Linked DNA regions of Homo sapiens. The protein of the gene in region 2 purifies or fractionates together with the protein of the main gene of each other region. This does not show direct contact. Each region holds a gene or a part of one and is shown on either strand. Other genes may lie near its edges.

The links.
Region 1: the proteins of ZNF496 (region 2) and TNFRSF13B purify together in Homo sapiens (co-immunoprecipitation; one large-scale study listed by IntAct). This does not show direct contact.

What each region holds. Positions count from the first base shown.
Region 1 is NC_000017.11:16,948,096-16,951,912, forward strand, and holds part of TNFRSF13B (tumor necrosis factor receptor superfamily member 13B), read right to left. Parts: intron 889-3,817; coding exon 643-888; intron 1-642. UniProt on the Homo sapiens protein: Receptor for TNFSF13/APRIL and TNFSF13B/TALL1/BAFF/BLYS that binds both ligands with similar high affinity. Mediates calcineurin-dependent activation of NF-AT, as well as activation of NF-kappa-B and AP-1.
Region 2 is NC_000001.11:247,321,821-247,325,637, forward strand, and holds part of ZNF496 (zinc finger protein 496), read right to left. Parts: intron 1,411-3,817; coding exon 1,334-1,410; intron 1-1,333. UniProt on the Homo sapiens protein: DNA-binding transcription factor that can both act as an activator and a repressor.

The DNA.
Region 1 (3,817 bases), on a different chromosome or scaffold from region 2:
ATACCACATGTTCTCACTTATAAGTGAAATGCTAAGTGTCGAATACAGATGGACATAAAGACAGGAACAACAGACACTGGGGCCTACTAGAAGGGGGAGGCAGAGAGAGAGGGCAAGGGCTGAAAAACTACCTATTGGGTGCTATGCTCACCACCTGGGTGACAAGACCATTTGTACCTCAAACCTTAGCATCAAGCAACATACCCATGTAACAAACCCTACACATGTACCCCCGGATCTAAAAAAAAAAGTTGAAATTATAAATAAAATAATAATAGAAATAAATGGAGTCTGCAGCACTGGTGGAGGGCAGGTGGTGGCTGCTGCTCAGGTGCTCACACAGGTGGGTCTGCTGCTTACTTGTGCCTGTGCTTCAATGACTGGCACAGCCTCGGCAGCCTCTAGTGCAAGGCTCTTCCTCACACGGCAGGTCCTTTCTCCTGCTTTCTTCTTGTCCACAGACTTCTGGAAATGTTGCCTACATTGTTTTTTTTATCCTGGGATGATCTCCCTGGCTTCTGGCCATTTGCTTGGACTCTGGGCTTCATGCATTGTGGACTCTCCTGTTCTAGGCCTGGCATCAGGCCTCCCACGCTTTCTCACCCTGCGTGACACCATGCAGGTTTGCCTTGGGTGGCTTACCTGGACTTGCTTCTGAGCCTCTGTGCTCCAATCCTTGGTACCTTCCCGAGTTGTCTGAATTGTTTTCAACTTCTCCACTCCGCTGTCTCCTGAGCTCTGGTGGAAGGTTCACTGGGCTCCTGAGCTTGTTCTCACAGAAGTATGCACATTGCTTAGGGTGCTGTCCACAGATGGAGGCACAGCTGATGCAGTCCCTCAGGAGATGGTCATAGAACTTGCCTTGCTCCTTGCGGCAGCTGAGTGACCCTGGGAGAGAGAAATTCATGATACTGCTGGGTGACACAGACTAGCAGGAACTCTGGGTTTGACCACAAAGGACATCAAAGTTAAAAAAAAAAATACAGTAAAATTCCAGAAGGCAATTCCAGAGTAAGCCAAGTACTTTTACAATATACACATTGAAGACTATGCATTGTCCTCTAAGTACTATTTTAGCTGCATTGCATTTTGATGTGTAGTATTTTTCCTCTACCTAGATCAAAATGCACTTATTTTTCATTATTATCTTTTCTTTGACCTATGGGTTATTTACAAGTGCATTTCTTAGTTTCCAAACGTATGAAGATTTTCAGTTATCATTTAAAATTTAGATCTGGATTACATTGTTACATAAGACTTTTACTTGCATTTTTCAAGCCTCATCAAGGAGAAATATATTTCAAATCAGCATAAGGAAAGAAGGGGAAAAGCCAGAATCCTCTTTGACAAGCTGGGGGAGGGGGCTGGAAGGAAGGTGGAAAAGTTCACATGAATAGTGTTTCTTCTGTCTTAATACTAGATGAGAATTACAGCAGCTTACACAAGTATCAGTGCCAAGGCACAGAAGCCAAGGAAACTAAAGCCAAATCACACTTGCCTTAAGAGAGCACAGTGGACCCAACTTTGAATGCATAAAGAAACCTATTTGGAACAATCAATTATCTTATCTAAAGTCTCAGAATATTTCTAATTTTTTTTTTTTTTTTGAGAAGGAGTTTCGCTCCTGTCACCCAGGCTGGAGTGCAATGGCACGATCTCGGCTCACTGCAACCTCTGCCTCCCAGGTTCAAGCAATTCTCCTGCCTCAGCCTCCCGAGTAGCTGGGATTACAGGCGACCACCACAACACCCGGCTAATTTTTGTATTTTTAGTAGAGATGGACTTTCGCCGTGTTGGCCAGGCTGGTCGTGAACTCCTGACCTCAGGTGATCTGCCTGCCTCGGCCTCCCAAAGTGCTGGGATTACAGGTGGCATGAACCACCGCATCTGGTCTAGCCTCCGAATATTTCTACATGGAAGTTTTTACGTGAAAAAGGCAAGTTTCCTTTGTATTTAGAGTAAGGTATGGCTTTTGAGATGTCCTGACTTCGTAAATATGAATAAATAAATAAATAAATATGTATAAATAAAATATATGTGGCTCACACATATATTTTAAGGACACATTTTGGAGACAGTGCAGGATAGTGGATAAGAACCCAAATTTCAGAACCAAATTTCAGTTGGGGCCATCCCTGGCTGTACCACTTGCAGGCAGTGTGGTCTTAGCCTCTCCGTGCCTCAGTTTCCTCATTTCCAACATAGGGAAAATAACAGTACTGACTTCTTCGTAGGGTTGTTGGCAGAGTTGTAGGGCCCAGCACAGTGCCTGGCACATACTAAATGCTCACGTAATGGAAAGCTTAAGTAGAATATTCATTTGAGCCTCTTCACAAAGCAAACAGATCCGTTCTTGTGTCTTTGACAGAGTAAAGGAAGGAACTAAAAGATCACGGAATTGGGACCTTAGGGAAAACTCAGATGGCCCACATAGGGCCAGTGACCTCCCCTGCTCTGGCCCTGCCCTATCCCCAGGGCGCCCCTGAACCGCACAGAAACTGACACCTCCACTCTGCATCACACAGGGTTAGCCCAGCATTGGTGTCCTTGGGGCTTTCTGTGACCTCCTCCCCTGTTGCAGGTGGTGCTGTTGCAGGTGGTGCCTGAGTGCCCCAGCCCACTGACCCTCCCTGCCTGACCTCACACCCCTCCCTGCCTGACCTCACACCCCTCCCCTCCCCCGCCTGGGACTCAGTCCTCCCCACTGTGTTTCCCTCCTCTGAGCCTCTGCTCATAGTGCCCTTTCTTCCAGGTGCCCATCTGATTTCCGCATTCTGTGACCTCTTAACAATCTGCCTCTGATGGTGCTTCCTCTAGGGACACCTCCCTGCTCCCCAGCCCTTTAGCTGAAGGGGGTCTCTCCCAACTGTGGCTTTCTACCTTGACACATAGTCATTTCTCCCATTAGATGACACTGTCTTTGAAGGGCCACGGCAGATTCCTATTTCCATGGGGCTGGAGCACTCCATCTATGTTTGTGGGATGAACCAATGAATGTTCTAATTCATTAATGGGTAGTGGTTCAGGTCATGATTTAGGAGTCGGAGTCCTGGGTTCAAACCAGGATGTCGCTGTGACATCTCCACTTTTAAACTGGGTGATCTTGGGTGAGTCACTCAGCCTCTCTGAGTTCCCCGCAATAAGTATTCATGAAGGACTTACTATGTGTCAGGCACTGTGCTAGGCTCAAGTCAGACATGGTTCCCCTGCCAGGGAGCTCCCAGTCTAGTGGTTGAGTCAGACATAAAACACATACACATGAAAGAACAAAACAGCAAATTGTGGTAAGTTCTATCAAGGAAAAGAACAGGTTATGAAAAAGAACAGCAAGCAACGAATAATTTTCAAGACAATCAGGGAAAACTGGATATTGCCTGAGTATTAGATGATGTTAATAAATTATTGCTGGCAGTGATAGGATATTTGGATTATGTTTCACAGGTTTTCGTGGTCCAGTATCTGCAGGTAAAATTATATGAGATCTTGGCTGTGCTTTAAAATACACAAGGCAGGCTGGGTGCAGTGGCTCACGCCTGTAATCCCAGCACTTTGGGAGGCCGAGGTGGGTGGATCACCTAAGGTCAGGAGTTCAAGACCAGCCTGACCAACATGGAGAAACCCCATCTCTACTAAAAATACAAAATTAGCCGGGTGTGGTGGCACATGCCTGTAATCCCAGCTACTCGGGAGGCTGAGGAGGGAGAATCACTTGAACCCGGGCGGTGGAGGTTGCGGTGAGCCAAGATCGCACCATTGCACTCCAGCCTGAGCAACAAGAGCGAAACTTCATCTCAAAAAATAAAAATAAAAATAAAAA
Region 2 (3,817 bases):
TGGAAATGGTCACAGTACACAGCAGATGCTGACATGTATGTGTTGAGCATCAGGGTAAACAGGCGTGTGCCACATTTCTGGTGGGGCAAAAGCAAGTTATGGAGATGCCCCCTAACTGGGTAACCTGGCTAACTCCTTCCCATCCCTAGCCCTCCCTTCTCCAAGTTTAAAGTCATGTTGGCTGGGCACAGTGGCTCATGCCTGTAATCCCAGCACTTTGGGAGGCTGAGACAGGAGGATCACTTGAGGTCAGGAGTTTGAGACCAGCCTGGGCAACATGGCGAGACCCTGTCTCTACAAGGAAATACAAAACTTAGCTGGGTGTAGTGGCATGCACCTGTAGTCCCAGCTGCTCAGGAGACCGAGGTGGGAGGATGGCTTGAGCTCAGGAGTTTGAGGCTGCAGTGAACTACGACTGTGCCACTGCATTGAAGCCTGGGTGACAAGGCAAGACCCTGTCTCTAAAAATAAAAATAAAATAAAGTCATGTCAAATGAACTGTGCAGAAAGCAAACTGCTCAGCTTCCGACATTCTGCTGAGACATGGTAATAAGAGTGTCTACTGTTTTTCACAGTTTTCTGTTGGGTAAGGAGCAACTAAACAAAAGCAGGAGCCACACATCCTGTTCCCATGGGAGGGGATGATGCTGTCATAACTAAATCTTGTGCCAGCCAGTGGAAAGTGTTAGGAGGGAAAGTGAAGGAGATATGGCCAGAAAACATGGCCAAAGACAGCAACTGGGCTAGAGAGAGGCGAGTAAGATCACCTGCTGGACCAGCCCCCAGCCCTGACTCTGACTCCTCAGAGCACCCGAGTAAGCAAGTCTTACACAAAAACACGAACGAGAACATTCGAGGAAATTCTGGAATGACTCACCACGTAGATCTGTGACAGGACTGAAATTATCTGTGCTTTCTTCCCTCCACTTCCTAACATTTCTAAAATATAACCATTGCTGCGATGATTATTAAATTGAAAAATTCTCTGTAAAATAAAAGAGCAGAGAGATCTCCTTTTTCACAAGAGGGGAACTTAGACATGCTGAGAGGCCCATCAATGGGGACTCATGGGCCTTTGTTTCCTGCTATCGTCTGCACAAAGCTTCCTGAAGGTGGCCTGATGACAGTAGACCCAGTGGGCGGCTGGGACCACAGGGAAGGAGGAGAAATGGGGCGTCTCTTAAGCTCACGCTCTGCCTATTTTAGCTTTTCTGGGCTGGGACTGAACATCCTGTGTGGCAGTCAGAAAGCTGGCTGGGGTCCTAAGAAAGCTGCCCTGTAGCCTACAGAGGCAAACAGGGGATTTTCAAGGACTCCTGTAGAAACCACTCACCGGGGGTAGCTGGAGGGTGGTCACCTGCTGTGTGTCCCGCACATTCTCTTCCTGAAGAAGGAAAGCATCTTGCAGAACTGAAAGAGATCAGAAAATGGTGTCCTAAAGTGGGCCAGGGCCAGGCCTGGTGCTGATACCTTCTGAGCTTCCTGCGGCTCTTCATTTCCATTTTGGTAGCAAAGAAAATCACAAGAGAGGCACCAACAGGGAACTGTTTCATGGTGCTTTTCATAAAACCCCAGTCTCTGTTCTTAACTGTAAAATGAGGATTACAAAATGACGCACATGAAAAGTACTCTGTAAACCACAAAGATTGCTGCGACTTTGTTTCCAGATATAACAAGGGGGGCTGTAACAGAGTGTGCCTGGGTTCATGATAGCACGGTCAATTAAATGAACTCTTTCACCTCGGGTAGGTCCCCGGACCTCAGCATTGTTATCCAAACTATGGGAAAATAAAGGTTAAAACTCTATGGAGTTCAGCCGTGTGTGGTGGTACATGCCTGTAATCTCAGCTATTCTTATTTTGGGGACTGAGGTGGGAGAATCACTTGAGCCCAGGAGTTCCAGACCAGCAGGGACAACACAGAGTATTTGTTTCTTAAAAAGAAAAAGAAAAAAAAAAAGAAGAAGAAAAAGAAAAAGCCGTAGAGTTGAGGAATCTATAAGGACTCTTAGGGTCTGGATGTGGTGGCTCATGCCTGTAATCCTAGCTCTTTGGGAAGCCAAAGTGGGAGGATTGCTTAAGCTCAGGAGTTCAAGACCAGTCTGGGCAACATAGGGAGACCGCATCTCTATTAAAAATAAAAAAACTGGGAAGCTGAAACAGAAGGATTGCTTGAGCCTGAGAGATGGAGGCTGCAGTGAGCCACAGCTGCACCACTGCACTCCAGCCTGGGTGACAGAACATGGCTCTGTCTCAAATGAAAAAAAAAAAAAAAAAAAGTAAGGGCTGTTGGCAATCAGAATTACTGTGGAACTCCATAAAAAAAGAAGGAAAATCCTGTCATTTTTGACGACATGAATGAACCTGAAAGACATGCTACGAGCAATAAGCCAGACACAAAAAGAAATACTGCATGTTCTCACTTAAATGTGGACTCTAAAAAAGTTGAACTCATAGAAGCAGAGATCAGAATGCTGGTTACCAGAGGCTAGGGAATGAGGGGACTGGGGAGACATTGGTCAAAGTGTACAAAATTTCAGTGACATGAGAGGAGTAAACTCAGGAGTCCTATTGCACAACATGGTGACTATAGGCAGTAACAACGTACTGTGTACTTGAAAATTGCTAAGAGGGTAGATCTGAAGTATTTTCACCACACACAGAAAAAGGATAGGTATATGAGGTAATGCATTATATTAATTAGCTTGACTTTTTTTTTTTTTAAGAGACTGGTCTCACTAGGTTGCCTAGGCTGGAACAGAACTCCTGAGCTCAAGGGATCCTCCCACCTCAGCCTCCTGAGTAGCTGGGACTACAGGTGTGCCACCATGCCCAGCTAAGTAGCTTGGTTTAATCATTTCACAATGTGTATAGATATCAAAACATTACACTGTACACTGTAAATACATACAATTTTTTTTTGTCAATTTGAAGACAGAAATTAAACAAAAAAGAAAAACTGTTACCACTGTAGGTACTCCTGAAAGAGCATTTGACACAGTGTCCTAAAGACCCTCATACAAAATGTAAAGTGTGGCTTTGGGACCATCTCACCAGCCTTATTTTGGGCTACCAGGGACTCTGCCACTCTTCTCTCCTGGAATTGGAAACTACCCTTTGTTCAGGCTTCTGCCATGAGCCACATCCCCTGCCAACAGTGCAGCCATGTAAAAATGAGCTCTGTTTCAAAAGGTACTCCTTTCTCAGATTAAGACTTGGAGAGCTGTGCTATAGTCTACTGGTTAACCCCAGGTCACATGTTAAGTCATTATCAAAGCAAACCCCAGAGGCCAGTGTCCCTGGCCTTTCAGACCTGGAATACAAAGCCTGCAGGAAACAGCAGCTGCAGGAGTGGCTATGTGGAACAAAGGACGGGGCCAGGAGCCCACACAGATGGCAGTGCCATTCTAGGGGTCTCAGTGGAAGGCAGCCTCTTCACTGTGTCTGAAGGGGAAGCTCAGGCTGGATGGGCGTAGATTTGAGGAGGTGGTATTTTTCTGTGTGTATGTTCCATTTTAAGTTTCTATCTTCATCTTTATTTAACTTACTTTTACCTCCCAGTTTTATTAAGCTATAATTGACAAAAATTGTATGTATTTTGTATACGAAAACTGTACAATGTGATAACTATACATTGTGAAATGATTAAATTAAGCTAATTAACAAATCTATACCTCATATATTTTTGTGACGAGAACATTTCTTATTTACTTTCTTAGCAATTTTCAAGTATAAGATGCATTATTTTTCATCAACCTCACCATGCTGTACCATAGATCTCCAGAATTTATTCATCTTACCTAACGGAAACTTTGTAC